Linked DNA regions of Homo sapiens: region 1 is linked to region 2. The links come from fine-mapping of genetic effects on plasma protein levels. A gene starts in region 2. The other region holds a variant in brackets. All regions are shown on one strand. Distances are between the middles of the regions.

Region 1 (15,320 bases), 89 kb after region 2:
TTGAGGGGCAGAAGGTGGCAGGGCCACTGCAGGGGAGGGTGGAGGAGGCAGGCTAGAGGGGCAGGGCCCTACGTGGAGGGCCTGGGTTATCAGGGCAGAGGGCAGAGGCCGGAGCAGCCATCTGGGTGAGAGACAAGGAAGGCTCCAGAGAAGGTGACGATGGGGCAGAAAGAGTGAGCTGAGGCCGGGTGCAGTGGCTCACGCCTGTAATCCCAGTACTTTGGGAGGCCAAGGCAGGCGGATGTCTGGAGCCCAGGAGCTCAGGACCAGCCTGAGCAACATAGCGAGACGGCATCTCTACAAAAAAATCAAAAAATTAGCCGGATGTGGTGGAGCGAGCCTGTAGTTCCAGCTACTCAGGAGGCGGAGAAGGGAGGATGGCTTGAGCCCAGGAGGTAGAGGCTGCAGGGAGCCAAAATCGCACCACTGCTCTGCAGCCTGGGCAACACAGCAAGACCTTTAAAAAAGGGGGGATTGGGGAGGTAACCTGGGCTGGGTTTGGGGATGGCCCAGGGAGCACCTTGGGAGGGCTGGAACTATTTCTAGGCCCAGGGAGGGCAGGAAAGAAGCTCTGAACAACCTCACAGGGAATCTGCGGGGAGCGCTATCAAGAGCTAGCGGAGGGGCAGCTGCAGGGAACAAGGGTCTCTTGGATGTTTCACAAATGACTCATGCGGGTTGAGTAACCCGAGGACACATGGGACCTCCAGGCAACATGGCCAGGGGCCAGGCCTGCGGCTCCCACCCTGACCTTGGTGAGCTCCACCATCCTGGAATGAGAGCTCTGCCTGCCCTCCCAGGCGCTCCCTAAGTCACGGGGGCCTGGGACTTCCCTGCTCTTTCCTGGAGGCCAAAGGCCATTGGCCGTGCCTGGCAAGGAGAAATGCTGATTCCCCACCAGTCTCCCATCCAGCCGACAGACCAGATCCAAGATGTCCTTGCCTGCACATCTTCCCCAAAATAGGGCTTCGTGGGGAGTACCGGCTCCCCAGGCTAATTAAAACGAGAGGAAGAGAAAGATAGAGAGAGACAGAGAGACGCCTGGGGTTATCTGTGCCCCTGGGATTCTTCCGGGCCTGTGTTTCTCGCTGCCAGACCCACGCAAGCTGCGGGGTGGGGGCAGTGAGTCACGGCTGTGTGCTCCTACCCTGCACGCTGCCCCGGCCCCTGGGGCTCTATCTGCTTCTCCCCGGGGCTGCACTTCACTCCAAAGGCTCCCATAGGAGTCGAATTCATTCAAGTAGCCCCTGCTGACGGCTGAGCAGATGCTGAGCGTGCCAGGACAGAGGGGGCTGGACTCCTCGGTGGCCACAGCCCTTCTGTGTCGGGACTCTTCCCTGTCTTTAGGGCCCTCATCCGCTCCCTGCATGGCCCGTGGAAGTCCCTGGGCTCCCCGCTTTGTGCCGCCCACCTCTACTCAAATGCTCTCTACAGCTGCTGGGCCTGGCCTATGCCCTGCACCGCCCCTGTGGCTTCTGGTCCCTAGGCCACCCTGCCGAGTCAGTGCTCCGTCACCATCTCACAGATGCACCTACTCCAGAGGGCACCCATTCCAGTGCCCTTCACTAAAGGCACAGAGGGACTCACCAGGCTTCTGACACGAAGTTTCCCTGGGGGCAACACTGTGTCTTCCTGAACCTCTCTCCCAGCCCTGAAGCGGGGCCAGAGCTCCCCCTACCAGGAAGCAGTGGGGAACACCATGTGATTCTGCTGGAACCCCAATGTGGGGGATTGTCTGTGCCCACCTGGTGCTCCCCTGCTCAGATCACGTATCCGCGGCAGGCCCAGCGCTGACTCGCCCTCCAGGGCCGGGCTAGGCTGCCCCTCCTCCTGGCCGCCCGTCTGTGTCCTCAGGCTGTGGCCACCCAGTCACCCCATGCCTCGTGTCAGAGCACCCACCCACGGGCTGTGATCAGTGACTTGCATTGGGTCTCCCCTGCCAGAAGGAGGGCGCTGGCCCTGAGCGTGCCTGCCTCCACCACCGACGAAGTGCCACTTAATGTAGAATGAATGCCCTCATGAAGGAATGCTGGTGCTCTGGGGTCACCGGTAGCTCCTGGGCTGCCCCACACTCAACTCAGGGACGTCTGGCTCAAAGTCCCGTGGTTATAAACACTGGGGTGCCAAGGTCAGCTGCAGCCCCTCCTGCTTCCCAGAGAGTGCACCTTTGCCAGGGCCCAGGCCAGCAGCCTCAGCCCCACACCCGCCCCCTGGGGCAGAGCCTTCCGGGCTCCCCAGGCCAGCAGCCTCAGCCCCACACCCGCCCCCTGGGGCAGAGCCTTCCAGGCTCCCCAGGCCAGTAGGGTGGGGTGGGGCTGAGCTGCGCTGTGGATGACCCACGTGGGGCATCTGGGAGCTGAGCCCACCTTTTTGCTCCAGCCTCTTCCAGCTAAGTTCTCCTGGGGCTAGCAAGGAGGGCCAGAGTTAGGGGAATCTTGACACAAGAACCTTCCCCCGCTGAGCTGGCCTCCAGGTGCAAGCCGCCAAGAACAGGAGGGAGGCCAGCAGCATGGGGTCCTGGCCAGGGCAGTGCTCTCTGGGAGCGGTGGGGGCTGGGGCTGGAGGCAGAACTGGGACTCACAGCTGTATAAGCCTCTCATCAGGGAAGGTCTCAGCCCTTCCATTCCTGGCTCAGCCTCACAGGGTGCTGGGATGTGGCCCGCTATTCCCATTTTACAGATGAAAACACAGAATTCCAGGGACAAGTCAAGTCTAGGGATGAAGAAGCCCAGGTGGGGAAGCCAGGACCAGCCACCCTTGAGGCAGGAGGAGGCCCTGGCCTCGTGCTTGGGGCAGATGATGGCCCTTGTGAAGCCCAGGCCTCTCGCCCGTAGAGGGGAATAAAGGCCACACCTAGTACCCAGGGCTGCTGGAGCCAAGCAGCGAGAGGGACCGGGGACAGCCCTGGGTCCCCTGTGTGACACAGGCTGGTCTCACGGGGCATCACTACTAACAGTCATCAGACCAAAGGACCCATGGACGCCCACCCCAGCTCCGAGGCTGTCACTCACCAGGGCCGCAGACCGTGGACTTGATTCCTGTCTTCTCCAGCACGGGGACCCTGTTGATGGCGCCTTCAATGTGCTGGGTGAACACCTCCCAGTCCAGGTCAAAGAGGCCGAAGGCAAACTTGTCTGACACCTGCCAAGGCAGGGCAGGGGAACATCTCCGTTGTCCCCAAGAAGGCCATGCATCCCCATGCCAAACCTGCCTTGTGATGGCTGCCAGGCCAGCCTCTGCTGAATCAGATGCATTAGAGGGCTGGTGGTCACCCACACGTCCCAGCCGTTTGTCTCCCCCACCCACCAACCCATCAGCAAGGTCTGTCTGCTCCCCCTCCCCACCCCAGCCCAGGCCTCCACCCACTCCCCTAGATCCCACCATGCCCCTTCCCTACTCACAAGCCTCCTCTGGCCCCCTGCAGCTCACGATGGCCCCAAAGCCCTGTATGGCATGTGCCAGCCTGCCTACCTCTACCACTGGGCCCGCCACCCTGACCTTCCTGCAGCTCTTTGGGAAGAGCAAGCTTGTGTGAGCTCAAGGCCTTCACCCCTCAATGGGGCAGTTCTTCACCCAGACCTGGCACGCTGGTTTGTTGTCGCGGTGCAGGGCTCTGCTTGGATGTCCCCTCCCTGAAAAACCCTGCCCTGACCACCCATCTAAAGGATATCCTTCTGCTCCAGTCTCTCTAGGCTGATCCTTAACCTGCTAATTTTATTCAGTGCGCGATCATCTTCCAGAATTTCATTCCTTGTTCATTTGTTTGTTTGTTTGTTTGTAACAGTCTCACTCTGTCACCCAGGCTGGAGTAAAGTGGTGCGATCTCGGCTCACTGCCACCTCCATCTCCCGGGTTCAAGTGATTCTCCTGCCTCAGCCTCCCAAGTAGCTGGGATTACAGGTGCCCGCCACCACACCTGGCTAATTTTTGTATTTTTAGTAGAGTTGGGATTTCACCATGTTGGCCAGGCTGGCCTCAAATTCCTGACCTCAGGTGGTCCGCCCACCTCAGCCTCCCAAAGTGCTGGGATTACAGGTGTGAGCCACCGTGCCCAGCCATTTGTTTGTTTATTGTATGTCTCTCCACCAAAATATAGGCACCCAGAGTCAGGGACTTTTATCTTAGTTTCCCTCTTTCTCCAGAAATTAAAGCAGTTTTTAGCCCAAAGTAGCCACTCAGTCGTTCCATGTGTGGACTAAATGCATATACACATAGAACAGGGCTGCAGGGCTGCCCTAACCCCAGAAGCTGCCCGGGAAACAGCCCAGGCCAGGGGAAATGCCGCTGCAGCAGCTGGTTGGGAGGGCAGTGTCATTTGCTGAAGGACGTAGGACTTGTGTGCTCTCATGCCCTTCTGAGGTCATCACTCCACACTGCGCAGACCTTCTCTGTGGATGTTTTGAGGCAAAGCCCTCCAGCTGCCCTGGGTCTGTATTTGACTGCCTGCCAGGACCGTCAGGGTAAGAGCAAGATGGCTTTGAGCTTGGTGGGGTCAGGGGACCGGCCACTTCTCAGGTGTGCCTCTGAGGAGCTTCAGGAGGATGGACTTCCTGAAAGAGGCCCTCTCCATGCTGAGATGCAGCCCCAACTCCCTCCCATTATCCCAGGGCCCTGGCATCTTACCTCCTCCCAAAAGATGGGGTTGGCCTCATAGCCACCCACAGACAAGGCATCCCCTTGGAGGCGGAGGTAGACAGAGGCATCATGATCACGGACATTGGGCATGTTCTGGAAGGCAGAGAGAGAGGCCTTGGCATCATCCAGAACTGGGTGGGGACTTGGTTCCCCATGCCCCGTGGTGGGCCAGCACCTCCACCCAGGGTCACGGGCTCGAGATGGTCCTTCTCGTTGTAGGACCCCGAGGACAGAGTGGACACGGGGCCTCAAGTTACACACAGTGAATGGGTCACTGCCATTCAAGCCTCTCCTTCCCCAAATCCCATAAAATAACAGCAAAAGGGGAAGAAGGAAGAAGGAATGGATCGAGGAAGAGAGCAAGGGAGGAAGGGAGGGAAGCAAAACATATAACCGACAAAGATGAGAGAACAGGCAGAGGCAGCAGTAGAGGATGGGAGATTCCAACCAACCCTGGAGGACGCAGAGTGGATGGAGGAGGGGTGAGACTTAGCTGGGGCTGGAGGAGAGGGAGACTGAGCAAGGCAAGCCAGTGTGCCCCTCCTGCCTCCTCTTGAATCTTCAGAGCCACCCCAGGTCCCTCTTCAGGGGGTGATGCGCTTGCTCATGTATGGAAGGATCTTCCTCTGGAGAGGTGGGTCCTGAGAGGCTCCAGAAGTGGGGAGAGTGGACTGCCATCCCCCCACCCCCCCACCCCAGGAGCAGATTGGAGACTCTTCTGTGAGACACTGAGAGGCCCAGGGAAGGCTTGAGATGTTGACACCAGGGTCTCTCTAAAAGCGAAAGGCTTGCCGCCCACCCTTCCTGAGAGGCTCTCCAGTCCTCCCCTCCAAGCCTCCAATCACACTGCTGCTCACTCTCTCCTAAAAACAAAACCACAGGCCAGGCACGGTGGCTCACACCTGTAATCCCAGTGCTTTGGGAGGCCAAGGCAGGCAGATCACGAGGTCAGGAAATCAAGACCATCCTGACTAATATGGTGAAACCTCGTCTCTACTAAAAATACAAAAAATTAGCTGGGCGTGGTGGCGGGCGCCTGTAGTCCCAGCTATTCGGGAGGCTGAGGCAGGAGAATGCGTGAACCCAGAACGTGGTGCTTGCAGTGAGCCGAGATCGTGCCACTGCACTCCAGCCTGGGTGACAGAGCAAGACTCCGTCTCAAAATAAATAAATAAATAAATAAAACAAAACCACAGGCCAGGCACTGTGGCTCACACCTGTAATCCCAGCACTTTGGGAGGCCGACATGGGTGAATCACCTGAGGTCAGGAGTTCAAAATCAGCCTGGCCAACATGGTGAAACCCCATCTCTACTAAAAATACAAAAAATTAACCGGGCGTGGTGGTGGGCAGCTGTAATCCCAGCTACTCAGGAGTCTGAGACAGGAGAATGGCTTGAACCTGGGAGGCGAAGGTTGCAGTGAGCCAAGATTGCACCATTGCACTCCAGCCTGGGCAACAAGAGTGAAACTCTGTCTCATAAATAAATAACCACAAACCACAACAAGAACATCAGGAATACAAGAAGATGGTGTATTAGTGTGTTCTCACGCTGCTAATAAAGACATACCCAAGACTGGGTAATTTATACAGGAAAGAGGTTTAATGGACTCACAGTTCCACATGGCTGGGGAGGCCTCACAATCATGGTGGAAGGCAAATGAGGAGCAAAGGCATGTCTTACATGGCAGCAGGAAAGAGAGAGAGAGCATGTGCAGGGGAACTCCCTTTATAAAACCATCAGATCTCCTGAGACTTATTCCCTACCATGAGAACAGTATGGGGGAAACCACCCCATGATTCAATTATCTCCACCTGGCCCCACCCTTGACACATGGGGATTATTACGATTCAAGGTGAGCTTTGGGTGGGGACACAGCCAAACTGTATCAGAGTGACAGACAGTGCTATGAGAAAGGAATCTAAGATGAAGAAAGAGGTCTTTAAATGAGATATGATAGTCAAAATTTAAAATTCAATGGAAGGGCCAGATAAGGCTGGGGCCATCATCCAGCGATTAGGCTAAAAGAAAAAGACAACAAAACAGAAATCAGGAGTGGAAAAAAAATAAGAATATCAGAAGGTCCGTCTTGAAAGTTCAACATCCATTTTACAGC[G/A]GTTCCAGAAAGAGAAGACAGAGAAAAATGGAGTCGAGAAAAATGTCCAAGCAACAGCCCAAGAAGAGTCCTCCGATTGAAAATCACGCATTCATATGGAAGGGCCCAAGAGTGCCCACCAAGCCCTGAGTCTGGACAGAGGCCTGCACCAAGGCCACGCCGTGGGAAACATCACAACACCGGATGGCCAGGAGGGCCATCAACAGGGGACTGCATCGCTGGAGGCTGGAAGACATGGAGCAAACTCTTCAAACGTCTAATGGATGATTTTCAACACAGAATTCTAGATCCTGTCAAGCCATCAATCGAGTGTAAGCAAAGAATAAAAGCTTTTTCAGACATTCATGGACACAAAACATATACTTCTCTCGTACTCCTTTGCAGTAAACAGCCAGAGAACACGCTGTGACAAAAGGAAGAAAATAAACCCAGAAAGAGTGAAAGCCATGGCTCCAGCGGGGAGGCGTGAAGAAGGCCCTGGAGTGACAGCTTAGACCATGCAGCGGTCAGTCCAAAAGGGAGCGGAAGATCTGAAGGCAGCAGGAAGTCCTCCAGGGGAGGGAAATGGGACTTGGGGGCGTTAGGTGGTTTATCTGATGTGTGTGCGTATTCAGAAAATAGTATCAATAGTATCAATATGTTTGACAGATCCCTTGACACAACTGGGGAAAAATAGTGACAGTTATATATACACATGCAAATACCCCCAACAAAACAATAGCAAACTGAATCCAGCAATATATAAGAGAGATGATACACCATGGCCAGACTGGACGTGGTGGCTCATGCCTGTAATCCCAGCACTTTGGGAGGCCAAGGCGGGAGGGTCATTTGAGGTCAGGAGTTCGAGACCAGCCTTGGCAACATGGTGAAACCCCAACTCTACTAAAAATACAAAAATCAGCTGGGTGTCGTGGCACATGCCTGTAATCCCAGCTACTCAGGAGTGGAGGCAGGAGAATTTGCTTGAACCCAGGAAGCGAAGGTTGCAGTAAGCCAAGATCACACCACTGCACTCCAGCCTGGGCAACAGAGTCTCACTCTGTCTCAAAAACACAAAACAAAACAAAACAAAACACCATGGCCAACTGGAATTTATCCTAGGAAGGCAAGTTTGGTATAATGTATGAAAACCAATCAATAGAATACCCCACATCAACAAAGTACAGGACAAAAACCACGTAATCATCCCAGTAGATGCATGAGAAGCATTTGACAGAATCCAACATCTTTAATGATTTTTTTTTTTAAAGCCTCAACAAACACTTAACAAACTTGGAAGAAGGGAACTTCCTCAAAGTGCTGAAGGGTATCTACAAAAACCCACATGGAATGTGATACTTCAAGGAAGAAGGATGGCTGATTTCCCCCCAAGATCAGGAATTAGAGAAAGATATCCATTCTTACCCCTTCTACCCAACATTACATTGGAGGTTTTAGCCAGGGCAGCAATTAGGCAGCAAAAGTAATAAAAGGCACCCAGATTGAAAAAGAAGAAGTAAAAATATTCCTATTTGCAGATAACAAGGTCTTGTATATACAAAATCCTAAGGAAACCACTAAAAAACTACTAGCGCTCTCTCTCTCTCTCTCTCTCTCTCTCTCTCTCTCTTTCTCTCTTTCTTTCTGACAGAGTCCTGCTCTATCGCCCAGGCTAGAGTGCAGTGGTGCCATCTCAACTCACTGCAACCTGCACCTCCTGGGTTCAAGTGATTCTCCTGCCTCAGCCTACCGAGTAGCTGGGACCATGCCTGACTAATTTTTGTGTTTTTAGTAGAGACAGGGTTTCACCATGTTGGCCAGGCTGGTCTTGAACTCCTGACCTCAAGCAATCCACCCACCTCAGCTTCCCAAAGTGCTGGGATTATAGGCATGAGCCACTGGGCTCAGCCAAAAAACTAATATATTTCTATACTCTAGCATTGAATAATCTGAAAAGGAAGTTAAGAAATAATTTCATTTACAATATCATCAAAAATAATAAATATGCTTAGGAACAAATTTGACAAAAGAATTGCAAAACTTGTACTCTAAAAACTAGAAAATACTTTCGAAAGAAATTAAAGAAGACCTAAATAAATAGAAGGACATCTCACGTTCATGAAATGAAAGACTTATTTTTGTTAAGCTGACAACACACCCCAAATTGATCCATAGCTTCAACACAATGCCTGTCAGAATCTCAGCTAGTTTCTTTGAAGAAATTAAATAGCTGACCCTAAAGTTCATACAGAGATGCAAGGGACCAAGAATACCCAAAACAATTTTGAAAAGGAAAAACAAAGTTGGAGGATTCACACTTCTTGATACCAAACTTACTGCAAAGCTACATAATCAAGACAGTGAGGTACTAAGTAAGGATAGACCTACAGATCAATGGATTAGAATTGAGAGTCGAGAAATAAACCTTCTTCTGCCAGGCATGGTGGCTCACGCCTGTAATCCCAGCACTTTGGGAGGCCAAGGCGGGTGGATCACAAGGTCAGGAGATCGAGACCATCCTTGCTAACGTGGTGAAACCCTGTCTCTACTAAAAAATACAAAAAATTAGCCAGGCGTGGTAGCAGGCACCTGTAGTCCCAGCTACTCGGGAGGCTGAGGCAGGAGAATGGCATGAACCCAGGAGGCAGAGCTTGCAGTGAGCAGAGATCACACCACTGCACTCCAGCCTGGGCAAAAGAGCGAGACGCTGTCTCAAAAAAATAAAATAAAATAAATAAACCTTCTTCTTCAGAGTCAATTGATTTTCAGCAAGGGTGCTAAGACAATTCCTTGGGGGAAGCAGACTTTGTAAAAAATGTTGCTGGGCCAACTGGATAGCCACATGCAAAAGAATGCAGTTGGACCCCTACCTCACACCATGCACAAAATTTAACTTGAGATGGATTACAGGCATAAGTATAAGAGCTAAAACTATAAAAGCCTCAGAAGAAAATATTAGAAGTAAATCTTTATAGTCTTGGGTTGGGAAATGTCTTCTTAAATATGACACCAAGAGCACAAATGACAAAAGAGGAAAAAAAGAGATGAATTGGACGTTATTAAAATTTAAAACTTGTGCTACAAACCATACCATAAAAAAGCGAAAAGGCTATGTAAAGACTTCTGGATTCTGGGGGAAAAAAAGAAAGGGAAAAGACAACCACTGAATAGAAGTTTCAATCACTGAATGGAAGAAAATGTTCATAAATCATATATGTAACAAAGGACCTGTATCCAGAATATTTAAGGAACTCCTACAACTCAATAAAAAGATAAGCAACCCTATTTTTAAATGGGCAAAGTGTCTGAGTAACCATTTCTCCAAAGAAGATACACAAATAGTCAGTAAGCACATGAAGAGATGCCCCACATCATGTCATCAGGGAGATGCAAATCAAACCCACGGTGAGACACCACCTCACACCTTCTAGGATGACCGGCATAAAAAAAGACAAAAAATAACAAGACTTGGTGAGGATGGAGGGGAGCTGGAACCCCTCCGTATACCTCACTGGTGGGAATGTAAAATGGTGCAGCTTCTTTGGAAAATAGTCCGACAGTTCGTTGAAATGTTAAATAGAGTTACCATATGACTCAGTAATTCCACTCCAGTGTATAGACTGAGTATTCCTTATCTGAAATGCTTGGGACCAGCAGTGTTTCACATTTTTAATTTTTTTTTTGATTTTGGATGTTTGCATTATACTTACCTGTTGAGCATCCCCAAACCAAAAATCAAAATCCAGAATACTCCAGTGAGCATTTCATTTGAGCATCATGTTAGTGCTCAAAAAGTGTTGGATTTTGGAGCATTTTGGATTTTCGGATTTGGGGTGCTCAACTTGTTTAAACTCAAGAGAAATAACAACATAGGTCCCCACAAAAACATGCATATGGATGTTCACAGCAGCACTATTCAAAATAACCAGAAATGAGAAACACCAAATGTCCACCAGTGGGTGAACGGATAAAGTGCATTGTATCCATACAATGGAGTATTATTCAGCTGCAAAAAAGAATGAAATACTGATACATGTACTACACGGACAAAACCGTAAAAAGAAGCCAGACATCATGTGATTCCATTTATACTAAACGTCCAGAATAGGAAACTCCATCGAGGCAGAAATCAGATTTGGGATTGCCTAAGTCTGGGGACAGGGTGGGAAATGGGGAGTGATTGATAACGGGTATGGGTTTTGGGGCATGAAGATAATGTTACACACACACACATAACAGTTACAAAAGAAACTGAGCAGCTGGGACAAAAACTGTTAATAACTCCAAGAAACACAAAAAGTTGGACACTACTTGCTCAGGTATTAACAATGTTTACATAATCAGCTAAGCATGGTGGCTCACGCCTGTAATCCTAGCACTTTGGAAGTCCGAGATGGGTGGATTGCCTGAGCTCAGGAGTTCGAGACCAGCCTTGGCAACATGGTGAAACTCCGTCTCTACTAAAATACAAAAAAAAATCAGCCGGGTGTGGTGACGGGCACATTTAATCCCAGCTACATGGGAGGCTGAGGCACGAGAATTGCTTGAACCCGGGAGGCGGAGGTTGCAGTGAGCTGACACTGTGCCACTGTACTCCAGTGTGGGCAACAAAGTGAAACTCTGTCTCAAAAAAAACAAAACAAAACAAACAAACAAAAAAGCAGTGTTTACATCATCATAATATTGCAGAGAGGAACCACTGATTTAACCAATAAACAAGCCAAACCAAACAAGACCGTTTAGAAAGCAAGCAGGCATGGCGTGTGGACTCCTCTGTACCCGAGGAACAGCCTTCTCTCAATCCCTCTGTCACCTGCCCCAGAACTGGAGATGAGCACAGGGAGATACGACCCCTGTCCTGTCTCTGGGAGCAGGAAAGGGGATGTGCAGAGACCAGAAGGGACATTCTGGCAGATGCTTCCTCCCTCTCCGCCAGGATCCCAGGAGTCCTGTTCATTGGAATGAGAATATCTGCACCAGGGGATCGTTGTCAGGTGGCACATAGAAGTTCCTAGTAACTGAGCACTGTTTAAAAATAATCACAGCCGGGCAAGGTGGCTCACACCTGTAATCCCAGGACTTTAGGAGTCTGAGGCAGGAGGATCGCTTGAGCAGTTTGAGACCAGCCTGGGCAGCATAGCAAAACCCCATCTCTATAAAAATACAAAAATTAGCCAGGAGTGGTGGCACATGCCTGTAGTCCCAGCTACTCGGGAGGTGGAGGTGGGAGGATCGCTTGAGCCCAGGAGGTCAAGGCTGCAGTGAGCTATGATCATGCCACTGCACTCCAGCCTGGGAAACAGAGTGAGACCCTGTCTCAAATAATAATAATAATAATAATAATAATAGTAGTAGTAGTAGTAGTAGTTATATCCTTACCTCTGCTAGCACTACTACTCTAAAAACAAAGCCAGCCCCAGAGTTCCATAGAGCAGGACAGTGGGGACACCTGGTGGCCAGGGAAGCCCCTGATGTTTGTCCCAGCAGGATCCATGTCTGGACTTACCTGCCCCTTGCACAGATCCTGCTGCCTCTGAGCACCCAGCGGAGTGCCCAGTTCAGCATCAGCGTCCAGTGGAGCCCTGGCCTTTCTCTCCAGGCAGCAGCCTCCTGCTCTGGCTGTCCCCAGTCTGGCCCTGGTGCCACTGACTCCCTGCCTCCTGACCTCAGCCCATGCCTTCCATCTGCCTCTTTCTTCCATCTGATCCCTGCCTGATTGCTCCTGCCCTCCGTGTTCTCTTCCTCCGAAGCGCCAGCTGGTGACGACTTCACAACCCTCTGTCCTTGTCCTTGTCATCACACAGCTACCACCTCATGAGCACCTGCTGTATGCCGGGCACCACTCCCAGCTGCATCACTCTGTCCTTCCTGCAGCACAGCCTGAGGCAGTAGGGATGGTTATGACCCATTTTGCAGGAAAGGGAACCAGAGCGGTGACAGACTTGGCCAGCCTGGGTAATGGAGGAGTCAGTGTTTAAACCCAGCACCCAGGCTCTTACCCACAGCTCTGCCCACGGATGGAGCAGCCGCTCCTTGCCACTGCAAAAGTACGCCAGAGCACGACTGTGAAACCCCCTAACAGCGCCCGAGCCACCTGCTTTAATGATAGCTCAGAGAGGGAAGAGATGAGCCCTAGCCACAAAGGAAGCTGTGGGCAGAGCTCTCTAGGACCCAGGCCTGGGACAGATCCTCAGAAAAGGGAGGTCCTTGGGGCCACACAGCCCTCCAGCCACCCAAGAAGAAAGATGAACCACACGTGAGACCTGAGCCCTCACCTGCCAGCTGGAGCCCCCAGGCCCCAATGTGTGTGGCTGTGTCTGATCAGGGTAGACAGCGTCCTGCTGCACGAGGCTGCCACGCCCAGGGAGCTTCCTGAGCAGACAGAAATGGGCTGCACAGGTGCCATGCGCCCAGGAGAGGGCCCCCTGGCTTGTTCTGTGGCCCATCCAAGGGTCAGACCACAGCAGGTGGGCAGGTCAGGGCCAGCGGCCTGGCTCCTTCCTCAGATTCACACCAACTGCCTAGCTGCAGCCTCTGGAAGGGACAACTTCCAGACACCTGCACATGGCCAGGTGTCAGAGGAACATGAGGGGCTTTGTGCGAAGCCCCAGATCTCCACTTTTCTCCTACCAGGTCTCAGAGCTGCTGGGGCTGATGGCCCTTTTCCTGTGCTCCGGTACCAGAGGCACGCTGGGATCTGGACTGGCTTTGTAAGTAACACCCCCTAGCTTCGCTTGAATCTTGACATACACAGGAGGGGGCAGCTGCAGGGACCTAGGCCAACTCTGCCTTGCTTCTTCCCTGGAAAGGCACCTCAAAGGCAGGCCTTGGGAGGAATTAGGGATGGAGGATGGAGCCACAGTCCTGGGCTCGGTGGACATTCTGTGGCCACCCTCCCTGACGCCCCAGGACACAGCTCTGCCCGCCCTCCCAGAACCCACTGAGACCTGAGCGTGACCCCTGGCGGCCACCTAGGGGAGGAGGCTCTCCCCAGGGACCCGGAGCCAGGGAGGAGGCCTCAGCACTCAGCTCCGACACCCACCGTGTGACTACTCTTAGTCCCTAACCCGGCACATGGCACCAGCCACCTGCAGTGAGAGGCTCATTCTATGAACAAGAGGTCTTGTGTCCAGTGGGGCGTGGCTTGCCCAGCGCACAGGAGTCAGAGGCAGCAGCGCACTGGGACCCAGGTTCCGGCCCCATTTCGCCACCCGCTTCACTACCCTGGTCTACGAAGCAGCCAAGCCTGGTACCTCCCCGGTGACCATAGGGAAGCCAGGCTGGCACAGGGTGGCAATGGGCAGCCCCCAGGGACGAGGCTCCCAGCTCAGGGGCCCAGGCTTCCCTCTCACTGGCCCTGACCCTAAACAAGGGCAGTCTGTTCTCACACTGACCCTGCCCCACAGCCTCTGGCCCTGGCTCTCTGAACGGCCATGCTCTGTGCACGCTCCTTGTCCACCATGCCACCCTCAAGAGCCTCACCTAGATGCAGCTGCCTCCTCCAGGGAGCCTCCCCTGGTCCACTAGGGCTGGGAATTCCTATAGCCCCTGAGACCCCATCAGAGCCCTTATCAGCATGTTCTGGAATTGCACATGTACTTGTCTGTACCTCCCCCCAGCTCTACCCAGCAAGAACTAGGTGTCTGTCTGTGTTATGGCCACAGCTTCTAGAATAGGGCCTGAAACACCAAGCTCACCCATCAATGTCTGATGCAGAGAGGGTTCAATGGAATGTGAATGGTTGGATTAATATGTGGGTGGATGCTGAAGGAAGGGCAGAGGGAGAGATGAGTGGCTAGAGGGAGGGAGGGAGGGATTGATGGGTAGAAGTTTAGGTGGGTGGGTGGATGGAAGGATATATGAAAGAAGGGATGGACAGATGAACATGTGGATAAATAGATGAATAGATAGATGGAGAGATGGAGGACGGAAGAATGGATGGCGAGATGGCAAGATGAATAGAGGGAGGGAAAGAGTGGAGGGAGGAATGGATGAAGGGAAGGGGGATGGGTGGAGGGATGAAGGAATAAATGGGAGAAGGCATGGATAGATACGGGAGTAGATGGATGGAGAGACGGATGGAGAGATGGAGGGCTGGACAGAGAGAGGAATGAGTAAGGGAGGGTTGCATGATGAACGGATGGAAAGAGGGGGGTCAGTAACAAAGTGGCAGGAAGCTCCCAGCCACCATCCCTGGAGGGAGGAGTTGAGGACAGGAGAGAAGAGAGGGCAGGAGGCACCCAGCCCCAGGTGCCAGGAGGTGAACCCAGGCCCCCAACCTCCCTTGGCAGAAGGCTCTCAGGGAGGTTATTCATGCCAGGAACCAGCACCCTCTGAGACAGGCACCCCAGGCACACTGAGAGCATGCAAACATTCGGGTCTTCCCCGAAACTCCTGGGCACAGAACATGGCAAAAAGCTAGGCTGCCTGCACCACGCAGGACAGGCTGGACTGTGTTCTGGGCATCAAAGAGAGGCCAGGTCCTGAGGAACAAGGGGGTCAGCCCCAACAGGGATACGCCTGTGCTACCTAGTTTAATCCTCATACCACCCGGAAATACCCCATGTTACAATCCCCATTTCACAG
Region 2 (13,975 bases):
CAAGTTGTACCTCAGTCCCTTTTAGCCACAGCTGGAACTGGAGCAGCGAGGATGCAGGGCACCACGTCCAGAGGCTGCACAGAGCAGCAGGGCCCTGGGCCTGGCCCACTAAATTATGTTTCCCTCCTAGGCTTCCAGGCCTGTGATGGGAGGGGCTGCCTCAAAGGTTTCTGTAATGCCCTGGAGGCATCTTCCCCATAGTCTTGGCTATTAACATTTGCCTCCTCTTTACCTATGCAAATTTCTGCAACTTTGAATTCTTCCCCAGAAAATGGGTTTTTCTTTTCTACCACATGGTTAGGCTGCAAATTTCCCAAACTTTTATGCTGTGCTTCCCTTTTAAATATAAGTTCCAATTTCAGACCATCTCTTTGTGAACACATATGAGTATATGCTGTTAGAAGCAGCCAGGTTATGTCTTGGATGCTTTGCTGCTTAGAGATTTCTTCCACTAGATACACTAAATCATCTCTCTCAAGTTTAAAGTTCAACAGATCTCTAGAGCAGGGGCACAATGCCACCAGTCTCTTTGCTAAAGCATAGTGAGAGTGACCTTTACTCTAGTTCCCAATAAGTTCCTCATCTCCATCTGAGACCTCATCAGCCCGGCCATCTCTGTCCACATCACTATCAGTATTTTGGTCAAAACCATTCAACAATTCTCTAGGAAGTTCCAAACCTTCCCTCATTTTCCTGCCTTCTTCTGAGCCCTCCAAGCTGTTCCAACCTCTTGCCCATTACCCAGTTCCAAAGTAACTTCCACATTTTTAGATATCTTTATGGCAATGCCCCACTTCTTTGGTACCAATTTTTTGTATTAGTTCATTCTAACACCGCTATAAAGAACTACCTGATACTGGGTAATGTATAAAGAAAAGAGGTTTAATTGACTCACAGTTCCATAGGCTGTAAAGAAAGCATGGTTGAGAAGGCCTCAGGAAGATTACAATCTTGGTGGAAGGTAAAGGGGAGGCAAGCATATCTTCACAGGGTGGCAGGAGAGAGAGAGGAGGGAAGTGCTACATGCTTTTAAACAACCAGATGTTATGAGAACTCACTCACTATCACGAGGACAGTGTGTTAGTCTGTTCTCACGCTGCTAATAAAGACATACCTGAGACTGGGTAGTTTATTTAAAAAAAAAGAGGTTTGATGGATTCACAGTTCCACGTGGCTGGGAGGCCTCACAATCATGGCGGAAGGCAAAGGAGAAGCAAAGTCACATCTTACATGGCGGCAGGCAAGAGAGCATGTGCAGGGGAACTCCCTTTTATAAAACCGTCAGATCTCGTGAGACCTATTCATCATCATGAGAACAGCGTAGGAAAGACCTGCCCCCGTGATTCAATTACCTTCCACCAGTCCCTCCTCCAACAGTGAGAATTACAATTCAACATGAGATTTGGGCAGGAACACAGATCCAAACCATTTCAGTGGCCTTGGCCAACCCACCATGCTGAGACACTTCAAACCCAGACCTGTTCTCCTGGGACCAAACAGGCCTTTGGCAATCCCAGCACTTCCAAGACATCCTGTTGCTCCAGGTATTGACCAGTGCCACCCAGAAAGATATCCTCATCAGCACTGTAGCTCATGCTACCTCCTCACCTCCTACGTGACACAGACCATCTCTGTCCTGGTCATTTTAATTCGCCCTTTCCCCAGGGCCTTATGGGGCCAAGTCTCTCCATAACTTGATCAGCAGAGGGGAAATTGGATCAGGGTGTGCAGATCGTTGCCTGCTTCTTACTTTGTGAATGTCAGAAGCCCCCAGGCACAGAGACCTGCTTGTTTCCAAAGTCTCATCTTTGAAAAGCAGATGGCAAGGCTTAGGCTTGATTGAATTTGTGTTTATGTATGTGATGCATTTGATTGTAGCTGGAGGGAGGCTGCCTGGTCCAATAGCTAATTTGGCCCATCAACAGGGTTTAAACCTACTTACCTGTTAGAAACTATTTGTTCCATGGAGGCAGTTGTGCCTTTGGCTGGTGGCATAACAGCCAGCGTCTGAGCATCCCCCTTGACCAAAGCCTTTTGAACCTGTGGGTTGATTTCAATTAGGGAGCCCAAAGTCCTTGGCTCCACAGCCCGGGCTCTGAGGACTGATGCTATAGAGCCGTGGGTACAAGTGTATGAGGGCCGGCAGACAAAGGCAAGAGTTGCACCGCTGTCACTCATAGTTTAAGAAACAAACGACCCACATATTTATCAACAGGGAGTTGGCTAAATCAATCAGAGACCATGCCTGCAGTGGGATACTTGAGAGCTGTCAAAGGCGGAGGCAGCACTGAGCGTGTATACTCAACATATATCCAACATGCACGTGGAAAACACCAGTGGCAGGACAGTGTGTACAGCAGGCCATTTAACAAACAGTGATGGCTCCTCAAAAATTAAAAGTAGAATTATCACAGGATGCATCAATGCCATTTCTGGGTACACACTCAAAGGAATTCACAACAAGGATTCAAAGAGGTATTTGCACACCCAGCAGCATGATTCACAACAGCTAAAAGATGAAGCAACCCAACTGTCCATCTACTGATGATGGATACATCTAGTGTGATCATTCATACAATAGACTCTTCTCCAGCCTTAAAAGGCAAGGAAGCTCTGACACATGTTACAACCTGGATTCACCTTGAGGATAGTATGCTCAGTGAAATAGACCAGACACAAAGGATAAATCCTGTATGGCTCTATGTCTATGTGGTCTTAGAGTCATCAAAATCATGGAGACAGAAAGTAGAATGGTAGGTGCCCAGGGCTGGGGGAGGGGGAATAGGGAGCTGTTGTTTCATGGGCACAGAACTTCAGTTTTGCAAGATGAAGCGTTCTGAAGACAGATGGTGGTGATGGTTGCACGGTAATAGGAATATGCACTGAAAGCCATTGAACTGCACGCTTACAGTGGTTAAGGCGGGACATTTTACATGATGTGACAAATCAATAATAAACAATTTTAAAAATTTCAGAGAATGAAAAGCTGTTCTGACAGACGACATATTGAGCTGTTAATGGTAGTCGTATTTGAGGGAGTGATTCTGCGCCGTGTTTTTCAGGCTTGTCTGGATGTTTATAATGATAGAGCTCGCCACCGTGGAGGGAGCCCTCACTAAGCACAGATGGTCCAGCCTCTGCCTGCACTGACTCGGGGAGCCCCCAGCCTGAGGAAATGCGAGTGTAATTCTGTCACTGTCCCCATAAGCTGAGGAAACAAGGTACAGAGGTTGAGGAACATGCACCTGCCTCTTTCTGCCTTTGTCTTGATTACTTCTCTGGGATAAGGACCATGTCCCTCCCAGTGAAACTCACCTAAATGTCAAGGGACAGCACTCCTGAGCCTCAGCCTCCACATTGCTTGCCCCCGGGTAGGACCACAGATGCCCCCTCGGCCCTGGGCGCTGAGGCCAGTGGAAGCCCTGCTGAGCCTGCGAGGCTCTGCCCTTCAGCATCTCTGGGATCAGGTTTCCAAGAACACCTGGCCCTGAAATGGGCATGGGGGGTGGGATGAGGGCTGACTGACCACTCAGACCTTGGGGCCCAAGTCCCCTGTTCTCAGCCAAGGCCCAGGGAGTCAGGGCAGGTCCGGGGGTCCTGGGCTGGGTGGCGCCGGTCTCAGCCACATAGGTCTGTGTCCAGTGGGGTGTGGCAGCCGCGAGCTCCAGGGGTTGGTGGTGAAGTGGCCCATAAGCCCTGAGCGGGGGTCTGAGGGCTGGTCGCTGGCATTGTAGCCTTTGCCAGGCAGCTCACTCGAACCCTGCCCGCCCACTCTGAGGCTGCCATAGCCCCCATCTTGAGAGTCAGCAGAGCCTGCATGGAACCGCCCGGGAGGCCCAGGCCAGCCTTCCTCTCCAGACTCCATGGACGCCAGACGCCACGCTCTTCCAGGCCTACCACTCTGCAGCCACCACCCATGACCACGGAGCCCTGGCCAGTGCCACTTGTCTCTAGGCCTCGGCATCCTAAGTTGTGAAATGGTGACAGTCAGGGCCTCCATGTGACTTGGAAGGGTTGGGTGCCCTCACTCACGAGAACGCCCAGTGCCTGCATGCTCGCCTAGGGAAGAGGCAGGTGGGCTGCAGACACGGCTCCTACGAGCCTGTGGACTCAGAGGGCATCTCAGGACTCGGGAGCCCAGACCACAACCTGGTGACAGCTGTCCCACACAGGGCTCCCACTGCACATGGCATGGTGCAAAGGGCATTGACCCTCAATTCTCACCACAACCCCCATCTCCTGGGCCTGCCCAAGGCAACTGGTACCCCACAACTTCCTGCATCTCTGCCCCCCCCTCCCACCCTGGGGTGGGCTTGGCTGTGTGAGTGGACTTGGCCCACCAGCCGGCAGCCCCCATGCTGGGCTCTGATACCCCAGGAGCGTCCTTCTGCCAGTGAGGGATGGGTGTGGGAAGGTGAGGGCCCCGGCTTCTTCACCCTTGATGTGACAGTTTTGGGGTGCATTCCACAGTCTCTCCAGGGTCCCCTTGGAACTGAGTCCCTACTGCCCATGGAGGAAACTGATTATGAAAGTACGGTTCGTGAGTGTTCCCACTCCCCTGCCCACCCGTCTCCGCACACTCTGAGCTCTCCTTCCACACAGCCTGCTCACATCCAGACCCTTGCCTCAGCGTCTGCTTTTGGGAGAACCAAAACCATAACAGGACAAAAAGAAGGGAACACAGTCTCCGACTGCACTTGGGGGTCCCACCAGAGTGTGACGGTGCCAGCAGACACTAGGAGAGGAGGGCGCTTGTATTTCCTGTGGCCACTGTAACAAATGACCAAAAACTCTGAGGCTTAAAACAACACGATTTTTTTTTTTTACAGTTCTGGAGGTCAGAAGCTCTAAAATCAAGGTGTCTGCAGAGCTGGCTCCTTTTGGGGGCTCTGGGAGGGGAATCTGTTCCCACCTTTTCCAGCTACCAGAGGCCTCCACATCCCTTGGCTCATGGCCCCTGCTCCGTCTTGGAAGCAGCCTCCTCTCCTTGGACCCCATCAATGCATCTCCTTCTCTCTCTCGTAGGACCTTTGTGATGACATGGGGTCCACCCAGCCAATCCAAGACCACCTCCCACCTCCGGGTCCTTAATCTAATCACACTGAATGTCCCTTCCCCAGGTAGCCTACCCGACTTGCAGGGATCTGGACGTGGCCATTGGGGGACATCCCTCTGTCTGTCACACCACACGCCAGAAGCTCAGAGAGATTCCAGGGAGGGAGGCGGATTCTCATGTTCTCCGAGACCCTCCTGGGCCAGAGCCCTGCCTGTTGGACCCTGTGATGTCAGTGGGTGCAGCAGCCCCCGAGATGGATGCGGGTGAGGGCAGCCCGGGGCTGTCTCGCTAGCCCTCACTGCATCGGCCCCATTCTGGGTCAATGGTAGGTCAACCTGGTGGATCTCTGAGGTGACCAAGCTTACTGACAGATGAACTACAGCCTCAGGAAGAGGGTCATGGCTGGCAGGAGCCAGCGGGGGGCAAGACCAGCAGCCCTGAGTGCTGGTGCAGGCCACGCAGGGCCCAGCCTCTGTAGCCAGAAGTCAGCGCCAGTGCCGGTCCTGAGCAAGATGGCCATTTCACAGATGAGGAAAGAAGGCTCAGGGCTGTGGGGACTGTCCGGGTGGGTCACATGGCCGGCAGGTTTCAGGGCCTCTCTTTCCATCTGGTGCCCACAGTTACGCTGTGGCTTGGGTGTGGTCTGGAGCTACTGCCTCAGGACCCACCACCATCCTGGCAGTGTGGTCCCTTCAGAAAAGCTGAAAATGCAAAAATCAGGCACATGCACCTCCCCCCATGAGCTGCTCAAGAGAGAGGAGCAGTCACGCATCCTTATGGAGAAAAGGAGAAGCAGGACCCAGAAAGGGTTTCCCTGTAAGATTCCTCAGGGCCCAGCAGGCCTCAGCCCCAAGATTGAGGCCAAATTATTGGAGGGGTGTGTGTGTGTGTGTGTGTGTGTAAAACTGAGTATGTGAGCATGAGCCCAGAGCTGGGGGTGCAGGCCACGCAGGTGTGAGAGTCCACCTCCCCATCTCGCTGACCCCTGTGTATGGAGGAGAGATGGAGGCGGGGGAGGCTGTGTCCTGCCCAGGCCAGCCGCCTGCCAGTGACAGTGGAGGACTTGCTCACAGTGGGGCTGCTTGGGGTCACACAGGAGTGGCCTGGCAGGCCTGGCAGCCCCAGCCCTGGAGCCAGCCACAGACTCCTGGGTTCTGCTTCCCTGGGAGCTTCCAGGGGAGTGTCACTGGGGCTCACGATACCGACCCCTTCTGGGATCAGTGGCCCCTTGCTTTTGGCACAGAGCTTCAGGGCCAGAGGGTGCCTCTAATCCAGTAGCTGAGGAAAGCTTTCAGTGGTGCTCTGGGCACCTCTGTGACCTGCCCTGGGCCCAGTCCTCATGCTGATCCCACTGTAGCCACCCTACTCAGTGCCCCAGGCCCTGGACACCTCAGGCCATGGGATATCCCAAGCATTCAAACTCTCACGGCCACCTACGCTTATGAGCAGAGGCAGAGGCATGGTGCCACCGCTGCCTCCTCAGGCAGGATATGCTTTTTGTTTGTTTGTTTTGAGACAGGGTTGTTCGCTGTCATTCAGGCTGGAGTGCAGTGGTGTAGTCAGGGCTCATTGCAGCCTCAAACTCCTGGGCTCAAGCGATCCTCCCGCCTCAGCCTCCCGAGTAGCTGGGACTACAGTCTTGTGCCACTATGCCTGGCTAATTTGTTTTTATTTTTATTTTGGTAGAGACTGGGTCATGCTATGTTCCCCAGGCTGGTCTCGAACTCCTGGGTTCAAGCAATCCTCCCGTCTTTGCCTCCTAAAGTCCTGGGATTATAGAGGTATGAGTCACTGTGCCCAGCCCAGAATGTGCCTCTTAACTTTCATACCGCAGCCCCTATGCTCAGGACGAGGAGGGACATAGGCCAGCTGCCCCAAGTTCCCCAAGGGGACTGTGCCACCCTGGAGTGGGCTCTGTGATGGACAGAGTCACCGTCTCCCAGCAGCTCCCAATCCATCCCATCACAAGTCAGGTCTAGGCACTGCCATCAGACTGATAGTTGAATTTTTCCTGCCAAGAGGAGGTCCCTAAGAGCCTGAGCCACAGGCGAGGGACAGTGCTGTCCTGTGGCCAGGCCCCGTTGTCACTGGGGAGTGGCCTGGCCTGTTCACTCACCCAGCTCCAGTCTGCACCACCGTCGCTCCACTTGGGGTTGTCACTGCCTGAGGTTAGGACGTCAGCAGAAGCCAGCCTCATGTGGCAGAGGCGATGGGGAATTACAGCCTGCAAAGGCTGATGGCATCAGAGAGATTCAGGAAAGCAAAGGGCTTATTAAAAAGCTGAAATTGGTTCTAAACAAGGTCAGCCGTCGATGCGCCTTGGAGGGAAGCCAGGCGCTGAGCAGCAGGAATGGGGCTTATTTCCTGACACCGTGGCCGTGACACCCTGCACCTCCCCGGCCTACCCCACCCCCAACCCCACTCCCACCCCCATTCCCATCCCCACCCCCACCGCCACCTCTGGAGGGCAACGTGCACCCAGACACTGGAGCAGAGGCAGCAGGGGTGGGAGCAGGGAGGAAAGCCCCCCGCGGGGCACCACAGGGAGGCATGTGGCCAAGAGAGCACCTGGCAAGCAGGTGTCACCTCTGAGGAGGGTGAGGGCAGGAGGAGAGCTGACTGTTGCTTCCTTACCCTGGGGTCGGATTGCTCCCTTTTAAAATCCATTAATGCAAGGAAGGGCGCAGCCACGGGGCCATCCGATTGGATTCGCTCCCTCCCGCCCGGCCCCAGTCTCCGCAGATTTTCTCTGCGGTTGCATTTTTCATTTGAGCGTCCCTTCCTCTTGACTCCAGTGGAATTTTTCTGACCTTGGCTGACAAGGTGTGCAGCCCCCTCCAGCTCAGGGCACCCTCTTTGGGGTGCTTGCCCCAGGCACTGGCCCACCCTGTGAGCTCAGGCGCATTGTCTCGCCTCTCCGAGGCTGACTCTCCTGTGTCTGAGACAGGGATGATCGCACACCCAGCCACCCAAGGCTGGCCAGGATGGAGGCAGGGCAGGGGAAGCCCTGGTGCGGCCTGACTTGTGTCTCCTGTCCCTCCCTAGGACTTAGTTATCAGTATTTTGGAATCAGCTGAATCATTTCTGTCAAATGCTAGAGGAAAGCCAGTTTTGAGTTGGATAAAGAAAATGTCTTTGATTCCTGTTAAAAATAAACATGTGTGCATAACACTGCTGAGCACGAGACCGCACCTGCCGTCCCTCCTTAGAGCTCCCAGCAGCTGTTGGTCTTTGGCGTATCCGGGAGAGGAGCGAGGCCTGGAGGTGTGTTGAGCCGTCCAAGGGCTGGTAGCATCAGGGGCTCTTCACTGCCTCTCGCTCCACAGAACCGCTGGGTTGAAGGAAGCTGGAGGGATCAATTGTCCTTGTCATCCAACTTCCTGTGTCTGTAGATGGGGAGGAGGCGCTGGGTTGGAAAGCGCTTCTCTGAGGACGCCAGCTGCGCATTCAGGAGGGCGGAGCAGGATATGACCCCAGAGCTCTGACCCCGGAGGAGCAGGAGGGGTGCCTGGGGCCTCAATACCCCAGAGGGGAGAGAGGTGCCCCCCTTCCCACAACGCGGGCCCCAGCTGGTGCTCGTTTAGCCTGTTGTCTAGCTGGAGCCACCTGGGTGGCCACCAGGCTGCTGGGAGGGCTCACCCCTGAGCTGGGTGTGCTGTGGAGCCCGTGACCCTCACCTCTGCCTCTGCTGGCTTTTGTTATCCCGTGCTGGGAACACCAGTGCCTGCCCACCCCGGAGGCTCTTCGTATCACCGGCTCGCTGTGGCCGCTCCCCAGTCCCGAGAGTGAATGTCCGGGATGCAGCAGACACCTGCTTACAAGGCACAGGTGAGGAGGTTTTGGAACTAATCTGAGGCATGAAGGTGAGGTGCTCTCAGGCGACGGAGGTGGCATGTCCTGATGGGAAAGCCAGGCCTTCGGAGGCTGAGACCCTTCCCAAGGCTCACCAGAGAACTCCCAAGAGTGTCTTTCCCCTGGCCTGGGAGACAATTTCACACCAATGCCACACTCTATTGCACAGGTGATTATGCACTTGGACCTCACCTGCCTGGGCTGTGGGTGGGGGCGAACGGTGCCCCTCTGGGTGCAATCAGTGGGGAGGGGCTCATGGCCTGAGCTTGGCTTTGCAGGATGGCCTGGCCACTGTGGGGCAGAGAGCACTGCCTGCGAGGGCCAGGGGAAGGCTGGCACTTTCTCCAAATTTCACGTTCGTGCAAAGACACAGTCATTCCTTTCTACAGCGTAGAGCTCAGAGCTGAAGCAGCCTCCAGACCTGCTGTCATGGGTATTTAAGGACCTAAATGTTGCTGTCAGCCTATGACATGAATGTGCCCCTAAGGCTAGATTCTGGGTTTCTCCAGAGAGACGAGAAACAGGAGGGAAAAGGAAGGAAGGGAGGGAGGAGGCTGGGGAGGAGGGACAGCTTCTAGTCCAGCTGGAGAGATCTGTCAACCCAGCCTGGGGGGTGGAGCTGGAGGGATCAAGCAGAATGTCCTGAAGGCAGCTGCCCTCAGTCTACTTGTGGGAGAGGACAGGAGGGAGAGGTGCCGTGGTGAGACTGACCCTCGGGCCCACGGGTGGATGATGGCAAAGGTCCTGTGGCAGGTGTGGGAGAAGCAGGGCTGCGGCCAGCTGCCCTGAGAGGCTTCAAATTCAGGCCAGATCTGCTCTGGGCAAGAGGAAGCTGTGGGTTTGGGAGCTTCAGAGACAGGGGAGCAGGCCTGTCACTCACCCTCTTTTCCTTAAAGGCTGTCACCCCCAGCAGTGCACCCTGCAGCCTGCCTATCCCCTGTGCAGCTCCAGCTCCGTCTGTCCCCAGCAATGCACCCCACGCCCATGTCCCCCACTCCCTATGATGCTCTCGCGCCTTCTGGAGCAGCAGTGGTACCAGCTGGAGGCTGTGGAAAAATTGAGAGGAGACAAAAGTGGGAAGAGCAGGCCGTGGAGAGAGTGTCTAAACACAGGGACTATTTGGAGATTGTCTTATTTTTGGTTTGAAATGGGCCCACCTGCTAGTATTGTACAAACGGCTCTGCTCGCTAGGCCAGGCCTGCAGTGGCTACGGGCCTATCCTTCACTGGTCAGCCTGGAGCAGCTCCTCGGACCTCAGTCTGCTCATCCGTGGGTAGAGGCGACGCAGACCCCATCCCACTGGGGACTGGGCCAGACAGCCTGTGAGGCAGTCAGCTGGTGCCTGGCCAGAGGGTGTCTGAAAGGCCTCTTGGCTGCAGGGTGCATCTGCTTTTGGGACAGCTCTTCAGAGCCATCTCAGAAGGGACAGCATCCGCCTGTCTACTTCAACTCCCACTGATGACGTCCATGTGTCATTAGTGCCAATTAGAGGAGGGCAGCAGGCTGAGTGCTTGGCCTGGGGCGCAAGCTTGTGGGAGGGAAAATTGGATTCCCCGCTAGACAAATGTGATTACCCGTGCTGCCTGGACCCACCCCATTCAGGACCAGGGCATAAATGGCCAGGTGGGACCAGAGAGCTCACCCCAGCCATGCCCGCCCTCAGTCGCTGGGCCAGCCTGCCCGGCCCCAGCATGCGGGAGGCAGCCTTCATGTACAGCACAGCAGTGGCCATCTTCCTGGTCATCCTGGTGGCCGCACTGCAGGGCTCGGCTCCCCGTGAGAGCCCCCTCCCCTATCACATCCCCCTGGACCCGGAGGGGTCCCTGGAGCTCTCATGGAATGTCAGCTACACCCAGGAGGCCATCCATTTCCAGCTCCTGGTGCGGAGGCTCAAGGCTGGCGTCCTGTTTGGGATGTCCGACCGTGGCGAGCTTGAGAACGCAGATCTCGTGGTGCTCTGGACCGATGGGGACACTGCCTATTTTGCGGTGAGTCTCTCCTCCCTGCCAGCTCTCCAAACCCTTCCTGACCCGGCACCCCATCTGGCCGTCTTTCTGCACTCACCCTCCTTAACCCAGAAAGTTCTTCTGTCACCTGTCAGTGTTTGAGTTGACTCTGCTCTGAGCCAAGTCTGCACCCCGAGCTTGGGCATCATGGGGATCTCAGTTTGAGGACAAAATAGGAAAGACATGCTTTCCATGGTCCTTGACTGCCCGCCCCAAATCATGGGACCCAGTAATCCCAAGGAATGGAACTATACACAGAGGACGCACACACCACACACACTCGTGCCGCTCCACACCCCACACGCGCATGAGCACAGACCCCACGACCCTCGGCCCTGTAAACAATGCCTAGTACCACGTCCCCAGAGCACACATGCCCACTGATGTGGGCCAGGTGGTGGCGCGTGGCTGGGCACAGCATGAGGCCTGCACACCCATGGGATCCAGCCTGACCTACTGTGCTTGTACCCGTGGACCAACTGAGCAGGTGCAGACACCCTGCCCCTACCCATAGGTGTTGAACAAGCCCCACAGGGCTCAGCCAAAACTGTTAGGATGGGCTCTTGACTCCTTTCCGTCCAAATTTACCTCCACTCTTGTTTCACAGGGTGGAGAAAGGGGAAAAGTTTCCCTTCAAACTGGAGGGGACTTTAGGCCCTTCCACAAGCTGCAGGGGGTCCCCGAAGTGGGCGAGCCCACCGCCTACAATGGGTCCTGCTCCAGCCTTCCTTTCCACATGGGACTGGCCACCAGGGCTTCTTTGTGGATGAAACCCAACTCTCTCCACAGAAACACACAAAGGAGTGACAAAAAAGTTTTATTTCTGAAGTCAGGAGGTGCCTGCTTTATCTGGGAGTGCCGAGCTGGAGCGGGGGAGCTGTGTCTGTGCGGAGCGGCCGGCTCCAGCTCTGCATCTTGGTCTCACCATGGGCTGGTGGGGCGGAGAGTCCCTCTCTGCCTTTTTGGGTGTTGTGAATTCATGAGGGCAGATGGTGGCTGCTGTTTCTGGAGCTGAGCTTGCCCCCTCCAATTCCCAAGACTCGGCCAGGAGGCACTTGCCTGTGTCGCTAGTGAGGCTTAGGGCCACCCAGGTAGGGTGAGTGGAGCTGCCTGGGAAGGGCCCTGCTCTGACCCATAGGGCTGCACAGATTCCTGTGCACAAAGACACTCTGTGGCTCAGGTTCCAGCCAAGAAAGACCTGGGACAGCCCTGATTCTGAGCCGTCAGCCGTCTGGAGGAGCAGCTGAACCCCATCGCTGACAGTTTGGGGTTCTTCGCAAGCCTCTGCCATGAGGCACCCTGAGTGCAGGAGCATTTGCTCCTCTCTGGGGCAGCGTCCCCCCTGCCTGCATTTCCCGGCTGCTAGGGAAGCCAGAGGAAGCCAGGTGACTTTGCCTTTCCGTGCACTGGCAAGGTTAATTTGCACAACAAATTCCTACGAAAGCAAATGTCAGCCTTATTATTCCTCCCTAAGCAATATGTTCAACTAATATCTTCTTGATTTCCAGCTGAAATATCACAGGCGAACTTTCTGCCTCTGTTTAAAATGAGTCTCTCGGCAAACCAGCGGTGTCCCCAGCGGGGTTGCATTGTGTGGCTTTTTTCTCTAGGGAAAGTTTTGCAGTATCTTTTGCAGATTTCTTTTTTCTCAAGGAAATGAAGAAAAGATGTTTTACCCTGAATGTAAGATTAAAAAGAAACACAACCCAAAGTCCTTAAGGCCAAGGGCCCGAGGCTTTCTTGGGGTTTCCATGGGAAAGGCCAGGCAGGGCAGGGAAGCAGCTTCGTTTGGACAATTCTGGTGGGCTCTGGGTGGCTGGGGTGGTCTCTAGTTGCCTGGTTCCTGGCCCTAGGGTGTTTTAGGGTTGGGGCAATATTGGCCTGGGGTGTGAGAGTCAGGTGGAGGAGGTAGCTAGGGATATGGGCTTGGTGTGGGTCGGAATGTTAGGAATATGATTCTCACACACGTGTGAATGTTGGAGGGCAGGACAGGTGTAAACAACTCTGACCATCTGTTTGAGCCTTCAATCAATTAATAGATGCCAAATAGACAAATATGGAATCTAAGAAGGGCCCTTCTTGAGTACGAAGGGCAGCCTGCTTGTTGGGGAAGGCTCCTCGCTGTCTCTCAGTGGGTCTCCCTGGTGGTCTTCCATGTGACCTGGCCTCGGGCCACCGTGTCCCTGCCCCTTAGGGCCCAGTGCAAGGGGAGCGGCCGGAGACGGGGAGGGCAGAGGTCACTGATCCAGATCCCAGGAAGCATCCTCGGAGAATGCAGCAGGTCCAATGCCTCCCTGGGCCTCAGTTTACCTTCTCCAAGCAGGGCTGGGACTAAGGTGAGGGGAACAATGCCTAGGCTGCAGGGTTTAAAGTGGTGCTTCAGGCTGGGTGTGGTGGCTCATGCCTGTAATTCCAGCACTTTGGGAGGGCAAGGCAGGAGGACCGCTTGAGGCCAGGAGTTCAGGACCAGCCTAGGCAACATAGCGAGACCCTATCTCAAAAAAAAAAAAAAAAAAATCCAAAATTACATGTATTTATAAAGTAATAAAGCAGTGCTTGTTCTCAGGGTTGTGCCAGTGCAGGGTGGGCACCTGCTATCAATCACCATCTTAGATGTGGCACCCTGGTTTCTCTCTCCTTTCCTGTTCATGTCCCACCCTGTTCCCAACTCTCCCCTTTCTGAGGCTCCGCAACTCTCCTGCCTGCATGAATGTGGGCAGCATTGGTCTGAGGCATTGTTCCCAGTCTTGAGGAGGCCTTGGGAGCCTCAGGCATCTTCTTAAGAAGCTCAGTGTCCCGCCCGCCAGGCCCGGGAATGCCCATGGCTAACAGAACCTGTGACCTGCTGGCAAGTGACAGCCCTGGTTCCTGGCTGCAGAGGAGGAACCAACTCCACTGTCGGGGCTCATCTCCACTGTCTCCAGGCAGAAATGGAGATAGAAGGTGTGAGTGAAGCCACAGCCCCAGGCAGAACCCTCAGATCCACAGGGACTGAGGCCCAGCATCCCCAGATCAGCTGGCAATGAATGCGGAGCTCTGCCGGGGAATGCCCTCTTCCCCT

Which allele goes with the higher level. Positions count from the first base shown, and alleles are read on the strand shown. Strength reflects both the effect of a copy and how common the allele is.
As copies of A replace G in region 1, the plasma level of the protein whose gene starts at base 10,549 in region 2 goes up (strong association).

The links. PIP is the posterior inclusion probability: the model's chance that the variant is causal. Protein levels are from antibody-based Olink assays in UK Biobank. Linkage for the fine-mapping came from a reference panel and not from the study's own genotypes, which makes the PIPs less certain.
Region 1: its variant is fine-mapped to the plasma level of the DBH protein (UK Biobank, PIP above 0.99).

Annotation. Positions count from the first base shown.
Region 1 is chr9:133,714,315-133,729,634 of GRCh38, forward strand. It overlaps SARDH (sarcosine dehydrogenase), which reads right to left. Exons shown (of 21, transcript NM_001134707.2): 7 at 4,624-4,728; 8 at 3,012-3,141. Among named protein-coding and RNA genes, the nearest start is that of SARDH, 16 kb to the right of the region's middle. RefSeq lists enhancers at 1,289-1,992, 1,993-2,694, 13,127-13,637. The variant G/A (reference allele first, on the strand shown) is at 6,753.
Region 2 is chr9:133,625,815-133,639,789 of GRCh38, forward strand. It overlaps DBH (dopamine beta-hydroxylase), which reads left to right and starts at 10,549. Exons shown (of 12, transcript NM_000787.4): 1 at 10,549-10,896. The coding sequence starts at 10,558. RefSeq lists an enhancer at 11,814-12,549.